Homo sapiens: one gene and its partner. The protein of the gene in region 1 interacts with the protein of each later gene in a pairwise test. Each region holds a gene or a part of one and is shown on either strand. Other genes may lie near its edges. The genes, in order: LARP4 and PRPF39.

Region 1 (3,826 bases):
AGACAATAGAAGCAGACCCATAAATGATCTAGTTAGTAGGTAAAATTCACCCAGGCTGGAGTGCAGTGCTGCAACCTCGGCTTACTGCATACTCCACATCCTGGGTTCAAGCAATTCTCCTGCCTCAGCCTCCAGTAGCTGGAACTACAGGGCCACGCTACCACACCCCGCTAATTTTTGTATTTTCGTAGAGATGGGATTTTGCCATATTGGCCAGGCTGGTCTTGAACTCCTGACCTCAGGTGATCCACCTACTTTGGCCTCCCAAAGTACAGGCTAAAGTAAATATTACATGAATGTTTTTGTTTCCTTGTTTTTGAGGTGGAATTTCGCTCTTGCCGCCCAGGCTGGAGCCCAGGAATAACCTCAGCTCACTGCAATCTCTACCTCCCCGGTTCAAGTGATTCTCCTGCTGCCACCTCCCGAGTAGCTGGGATTACAGGCGCCCACCACCACACCTGGCTAATTTTTGTATTTTTTATTAGAGACAAGGTTTCACCATGTTGGCAAGCCTGTTCTTGAACCCCTGACCTCATGATCTGCCCACCTTGCCCTCCCAAAGTGCTAGGATTACAGGCATGAGCCACTGCGCCTGGCCCATTATTCTTATCTGTAAATAAGACTTCTCCAAATGTTTGCCTGAAAGGATTCCTTATTTAAGAGAAGACATTGGCAATATAAATTATCTGTCCAACTCCTTACTATTTTGCCAAAAATGACTCTATGATTAACATTACAAGAATCAACTATTAAAACATGCATTAAGAAATAACTTTTTGTCAATTCCAAAATTGAGTATGTTCATAGAAAAAACATCCAATGCAAACTTCATTATCTTTATATTAAGAATAGATCCTCTGCATATCAGACTGGAGACTACACTTTTTCTTTTTTGAGATGGAGTTTCGCTCTTGTTGCCCAGGCTGGAGCGCAATGGTGCGATCTCAGCTCACCACAACCTTCGCCTCCGGGGTTCAAGTGATTCTCCTGCCTCAGCCTCCCAAGTAGCTGGGATTACAGGCACGCACCACCATGCCCCGCTAATTTTTGTATTTTTAGTAGAGACGGGGTTTCTCCATGTTGGTCAGGCAGGTCTCGAACTCCCAGCTTCAGGTGATCCAGCCACCGAAGCCTCCCAAAGTGCTGGGATTACAGGCATGAGCCACAGCGCCCGACCCTACACTTTTAAATCTAGACAAGGGGCCGAGTGTGGTGCCATACGCCTGTAATCCCGACACTTTGCAAGGCAGAGGAGGGCAGGTCACATGAGGTTGCATGTTTGAGACTGGCCTGGCCAACATGGTGAAACCCTGTCTCTACTAAAAATACAAATATTAGCTGGGCATGGTGGCTGCACGCCTGTAATCCCAGCTACTCTGGAGGCTGAGGCACAAGAATCTCTTGAACCCTGGAGGCGGAGGCTGCTGTGAGCCGAGATCACACCACTGCACTCCAGCCCAGCGACAACATGAGACTCTGTCTCAAGAAAATAAAAAAAAAAATTAGTTAAATAATAATCACCATCCTTGCGCTCTATTTCACACGTATTTTACATCTACTAATAAAATTCAATAAAGGGGAAACAGCAATACCGTGAAAAACAGAATTCTAATTGTTTCTTCAGACATTCTTTTAGGTCTTCTGTAGAAACTGCTGAATTGCTTTCTCCTGATGGTAGAAAAGAAGAGGGAAAAAAAGTTAATAGCATGTTAGTAGAGGTGATAAATCTGACATACTGTTGTACTCAGAAGCCACAAAGTATCTACAATCAAAATTCACCACAAAGCTATTGTTTCAGAGAAACAGGGTCTCCCTTTGTTGCCCAGGCTAGAGTACAGTGGTGTGATCACAGCTCAGTATAGCCTCAACCTCCTGGGCTCAAATGATCCTCCCACCACAGCTTCTTGAGTAGCTAGGACCACAAACTTGTGCCATGATACCCAGCTAACTTTTTATTTTTATTTTTTTGTAGAGACAGGCTCTCATTATGTTGCCCAGACTGTTCTCAAACTCCTGGGCTCAAGCAATCCTCCTACCTTGGCCACAGGCATAAGCCACTGTGCCTGGCCCAAACTGTATTTTTTATTATTTTTATAATTTGGACAGTTCAAAGTCTAACTAATTTCTGTCAATCTAGATATTCTTTCATCAGATACATTTCATATTAGTTTAAGGTTATCTTTATCAAAAAATTAACAATGCACAATACTAAAAGCACTTAAAGGCCGGGCATGGTGGCTCACGCCTGTAATCCCAGCACTTTGGGAGGCCAAAGGCAGGTGGATTACTTGAGGTCAGGAGTTTGAGACCAGCCTGGCCAACATGGTGAAACACCATCTTTACTAAAAATACAAAAATTAGCCAGGTGTGGTGGCGCGTGCCTGTAATCCCAGCTACTCGGGAGGCTGAGACAGGAGTATCACTTGAACCCAGGAGGCAGAGATTGCAGTGAGCCAAGATCACGCCACTGCACTCCGGCCTGGGCAACAGAGCGAGACTCCCTCTCAACAACAACAAAAAAACAACAACAAAAAAACACCAATTGCTTACCATATCACTTCAACTCTATGTTCAAAGTAGGCAGTTGTTTATATATAGACACACAAAATTTTTTTTTCAGACACAGTTTCACTCTGTCACCCAGGTTGGAGTGCAGTGGCATGATCTTGGGATTATAGGTGCATGCCACCATGCCCAGCTAATTTTTTTTTTTCAGTATAGGACAGTGTTTCACCATGTTGGCCAGGCTAGTCTCAAACTCCTGACCTCAAGTGATCTGCCCGCCTGGGCCTCCTAAAGCGCTGGGATTACAGGCATGAGCCACCCCGCCTTTTTTTCTGTTATCTTTAATTTCACGCTTTCCTTTAATAGAACCCTCATAAACAATCTTAACATTACAAAAGTCATGTTATCTGAAAACAATGTAACAATCAACTAACATTTCATTAACGTAACCTTCTTTTCAAATAAGAAAATAATGCCATAGGTTTATCAGAACAAGTATAAAGAGACCATGGGTGGGGGGTGTCCTGTACTGAATTCTCATTTTAACAATAAAACCATAAAGTTTACCGGAAACATCATATATTTGGTAACTCAGATCTTCTGGTCCTAAAATCATCCCATCAGTTGATTCTTCAATGCCTGTAGTATTTCTTGTGGTTTCACAAGATGAAGAATACATTACTTCATATTCTTTACATATATCTTCTGAGAGCTCTGCATTACCTGTATTAAAGACAGACACTGAAAGTAAATGGGAATTATTTAAATTCTATTCTCAGGAACTCTGGGCAGTATGTCACCTATAAAAAGATTTTAAGGATTTCTACCAGTTTGAAATATGTCCGCATGGTTTTAAGCAAGAGTTATCATTCCGAGGGAGATAAGTTTTGACAATTACAGATAAACTAAAATGATCAACAATTGCTAAAACGTATATAGCATTATCCATGTATCAGACTACTCCATGCACTTTATTCATTTAATTATCAGAAAATCCTGTGCTGTAATTAAGATTGCTTCTGTTTTACAGATGGAGGGAAAAAAGCATAGAGAAATTAAGTTATTTGCCCAAGGTCGAACAGTGAGTAAATAGCAGAGTCAATGATGGTAGATAAAAACTAATTTATAAATATAATTATTATAGATGGGTTGCATGCTGGACCCAAAAACACGGCTACTACTTGAAATTAGTGGCAATCTATTCATGTTAGATATAAATGAGAATTATATACAAACTACATGTTAAACATTTATAAATGCTGGATGCAGTATGTTTAAAGGAAGAAAAATTGATAAATATACTTAATCAAATAATCAAAGG
Region 2 (3,826 bases), on another chromosome or scaffold:
AATGAAACTCTGTCTCAAAAAAAAAAAAAAAAAAAAAAAAAAAGCCCAGGTGCAGTGGCTTACGCCTGTAATCCCAGCACTTTGGGAGGCCGAGGCAGGCAAATCATCTGAGGTCAGGAATTCAAGATCAGCCTGACCAACATAGTAAACTGTGTCTACTAAAAATACAAAAATCAGCCGGACGCGGTGATGCATGCCTGTAATCCCAGCTACTCGGGAGGCTGAGGCTGGAGAATCACTTGAACCCAGGAGGCAGAGGTTGAAGTGAGCCAAGATGGCACCACTGCACTCCAGCTTAGGCGACAGACTCAAAAAAAAAAAGATAAACATCTTAAACTGCAGCTAGAAGCAAACTGCTATAAATCTGTATCTTAAACAGACCTGGCAATAACTAAAATCCTAAAACTTGAGAAATTACCTATTACCTATACACTGCCTTTTTCAATTGATATATAAAAAATATAAAAAGTACTCTATGGAGAAGCAAAATCATCTCACTTCTAAATGTGCTTACAACATAGGCAACGCCTATGCTTTTGTTTATGAAGTATTCTCCCAAGTCCTCTGTTCTACTTAGTAATCAGTAAATTTGTTGATAATTTCTAAAGGGAAAATATAAAGTATCACAATGTCTACAACAATTTTAACCCAATAATCTTAATGTCTAAAACTTTTAATTCAAAACAATTTGAAAAAAATTTTTAAATGGCAACATCAGTTTAGAGGGACTGTTGTCCTCATTTAGTAATAAAATCTATTACATACAGACCAAATCTTTCATCACAGTTGCCACAGTGAAAATACACTGACCACTGGTTTTTTTAATAGAAGATACTCTTAAAAATACAAATGCATACTTTGTCTCTTTCGATTGCTTCCAAAAGCACCTTTCTTGATTTTGGAAGGTTTTTCTGTATTTTGAAAAGATGCCGGGCTAGTTTGACAGCATAAAATGAAGATTCATTATTTGATTTGGCATTCTTAATGGCATCCTGAAGCAAATGTTCAGCTTCTTCCAGATTTCCATGCCGTCGTTCTAAACTTACTCTTCGTAAACGAACCATTGCCAATCCTAGAACACATTCTTCAAATGTTTTCAAGATATTCCTGGCTTCATTAATATTACCTAGAAACAGTAATTAAATGTTTATGCTTTGGTTTAAACAACCAAAATAACGTTTATAACCAGATACTGGCAACAATCACCCATGGGCTAAATCCAGCAACTAATAATGGGAAACAGCCATGCATATTTACACACTGCCTATGGCTGTTTCGGGGCTACAATGGCTTACAAAGCCTGAAAGTCAGAACACGTGGCTTTTACTATCTGGCCCTTTAGAGAAAAAGTTTGCCAAACTCTGCTTTACACCATCCCTTACCACTCAATTTGTCACTGTTTCCTGAAATAACTTAAAATCTCAAAAATGTCAACTGAATTTCTCCACTCTTACCCTGCTGTTCCTCAAAAGCTGCCCAAAGCATATGCACCATGGGTTTCTTTGGGAGATGTATAGTACAAGCTCTGCTGAAGACATGCCTCACTCCTTCAATGCTATGGTTTTCCATGTACTTGGCATACTACATACAGAAAAGAGGAAATACTGAATAATTTACAGTTGAACAAGCCATTAAATTTGTGACAGAACGATAAAATTCTATTTTTAAACCCATTCAGCACCTTTATTGAACCACTAGACTAGTTTCTGTAAGGAAGGACGAAGAGAGGCAACGAGGTTGGCATATGCAGCAGTCAAATCTGGTTGCAAGCAGACCATCTCCTAATGCAACAGATATAGTTATATGAACAACATTCAACAGAAGTACAAAAAAGGTTAGTCACTAGATCAATGTTTATAATATATTCAAGTTTAAGAGCACATGATTTTCTTACCTTAATCCAAAACTCCTCATAGAGGGCACATGATATGACACATCTTTCAAAGAGAACCACAACTCGTTCATGAGTCCCATTTTCAATTTCAAATTCTAAGTATTCTTTCCAGTTTTTTAGTTGTGCCTTTTCCAAAGGTTTCACATGAAAGTAAGGTCTTTTAATCTGAAATGAAATTGTAACATGCCAATGAAAGTAAACCAATATCACCAAAATATGCACATGTACAGTGTTAATACAAATAATTTTAAATATAATTGATGATTAAAATTTTTAATCATATTTCATAATTTAAAAAACTTTTAAAATTAACCCTTAAATTCCTTAAGCTTTACAAACAAATGAAATAATACATTTTCTCTCTATTCTGCCATTTTGCCAATTACATGCTTTTTAATGTACAGAACATTTTATACTTTGTTGAATATTTTAAAATTGAACAACCATAGTGACAGAAAGCAGATCAATGGCTGCCTAGTGCTAGGAGTGGAGAGGGGAACTCTGGCTGGAAAGGGGCCAAGGGGACCTTTGGAGTGCTAAAAGAGTTCTGTATCTTGATTGCTGTGATGACTACAATGTATATACATATATCTGTGAAATGATTCCATATTCTAAGATTCCATTCATATGAAAGGCCATTATAGGGAAATCTACAGAAACAAAAAGCAGTTGGTGGTATCTTAGCACTGGGGGTAGAGGGTCGCAGCTGAGGAGGTAGGGGTAGTGACAACTAAAAGTTAAGGTGTTATTTTTTGAGGTGGTGATTATGTTTTAAAATTGACTGTGGTGATGGTTGTACATATCTGTGAATATACTAAGAACTATTGAACTGTATACTTTAAATGGGTGAATTATATGGCATGTGAATTATATCTCAGTAAAGCAGTCAAAAAAAACCAAAGAATTAAAACTGTGGGAAATTACCTCATTTTACTATATATCTAAAATGGGTGAATTGTAATGTATGTAAAGTATAACCCCAAGAAGTTGACTTTTAAAAATTGAACAATTAGAATAAAATTGTTCAGATTAAGCAGATATCTTGCAATTCAAGTAAATCTGGATTCAAACATTCTAAAACTCATCAGGGAAAATGGAAAAACTGATAATGATTACAATAAATGAGACAAACATCTGAAGTTATGGCTTAAATATGCAAAAATAAAGTTACAACAGAGATAGTACTATCAAAATTGAAAGAAAAATAAATTATTCCTACTTTGTATTTTAAAGACTATTACAAAACAAAAACACTTACACCTTCTTCAAATGTCCACCTTTTACTAACTTCATGCTCATTATAATTAAACATTTCTTGATGAATCTCAATGATTCTATGTCTCATGTTTTCTATTTCTGTAATTAGCTTGGGAAGAAAAAGGGAAAAAAATAAATCTCACAAACTGTATACTGAAAATTTTCAATATCACTGCTTATATTTAAGTATTATTCACAGATATTTTAGTCTTAGAATAGTGGTAGATTTTTAACTGTTGGCAATTATGTGCAAAATCCAATTAACAACACTAAAACTTATCACACAACTTCCTAATTAACCACTTTCATATTTTTTCTTTTTTTCTTAAATTGGGCTAGTAGATACACAACCTAGGCAAAATATTCCTTCTAAGCTAAGTTTTTTTTGGGGTGTCTTGTAGTAAAATAGATTCTCTACCTTAAATCTATACATACAAGCTACTGAATCCCCACTTGCCTTAATCAGAAATTAACTTCAAACAAGCTACAAGTCACTGGGTAAATGGCCAGTTATATAAGTGATCACTGTGCCACTCATGGAGTCAAGGGATAACAGGTCCAGTTTCTTCTGCACTAAAGACCTTTTTTTCCCCCCGAGATGGAGTCTTGCTCTTTGGCCCAGGCTGGAGTGCAGTGGTGCCATCTTAGCTCACTGCAACCTCCGCCTTCCAGGTT

The links.
Region 2: the proteins of LARP4 (region 1) and PRPF39 interact in a two-hybrid assay, tested with the Homo sapiens proteins (one large-scale study listed by BioGRID).

What each region holds. Positions count from the first base shown.
Region 1 is NC_000012.12:50,428,337-50,432,162, reverse strand, and holds part of LARP4 (la-related protein 4), read right to left. Parts: intron 3,247-3,826; coding exon of another isoform or gene 3,229-3,246; coding exon 3,073-3,228; intron 1,669-3,072; coding exon 1,593-1,668; intron 1-1,592. UniProt on the Homo sapiens protein: RNA binding protein that binds to the poly-A tract of mRNA molecules. Associates with the 40S ribosomal subunit and with polysomes. Plays a role in the regulation of mRNA translation.
Region 2 is NC_000014.9:45,107,849-45,111,674, reverse strand, and holds part of PRPF39 (pre-mRNA-processing factor 39), read right to left. Parts: intron 3,261-3,826; coding exon 3,153-3,260; intron 2,060-3,152; coding exon 1,895-2,059; intron 1,582-1,894; coding exon 1,455-1,581; intron 1,127-1,454; coding exon 858-1,126; intron 801-857; exon of another isoform or gene 700-800; intron 1-699. UniProt on the Homo sapiens protein: Involved in pre-mRNA splicing.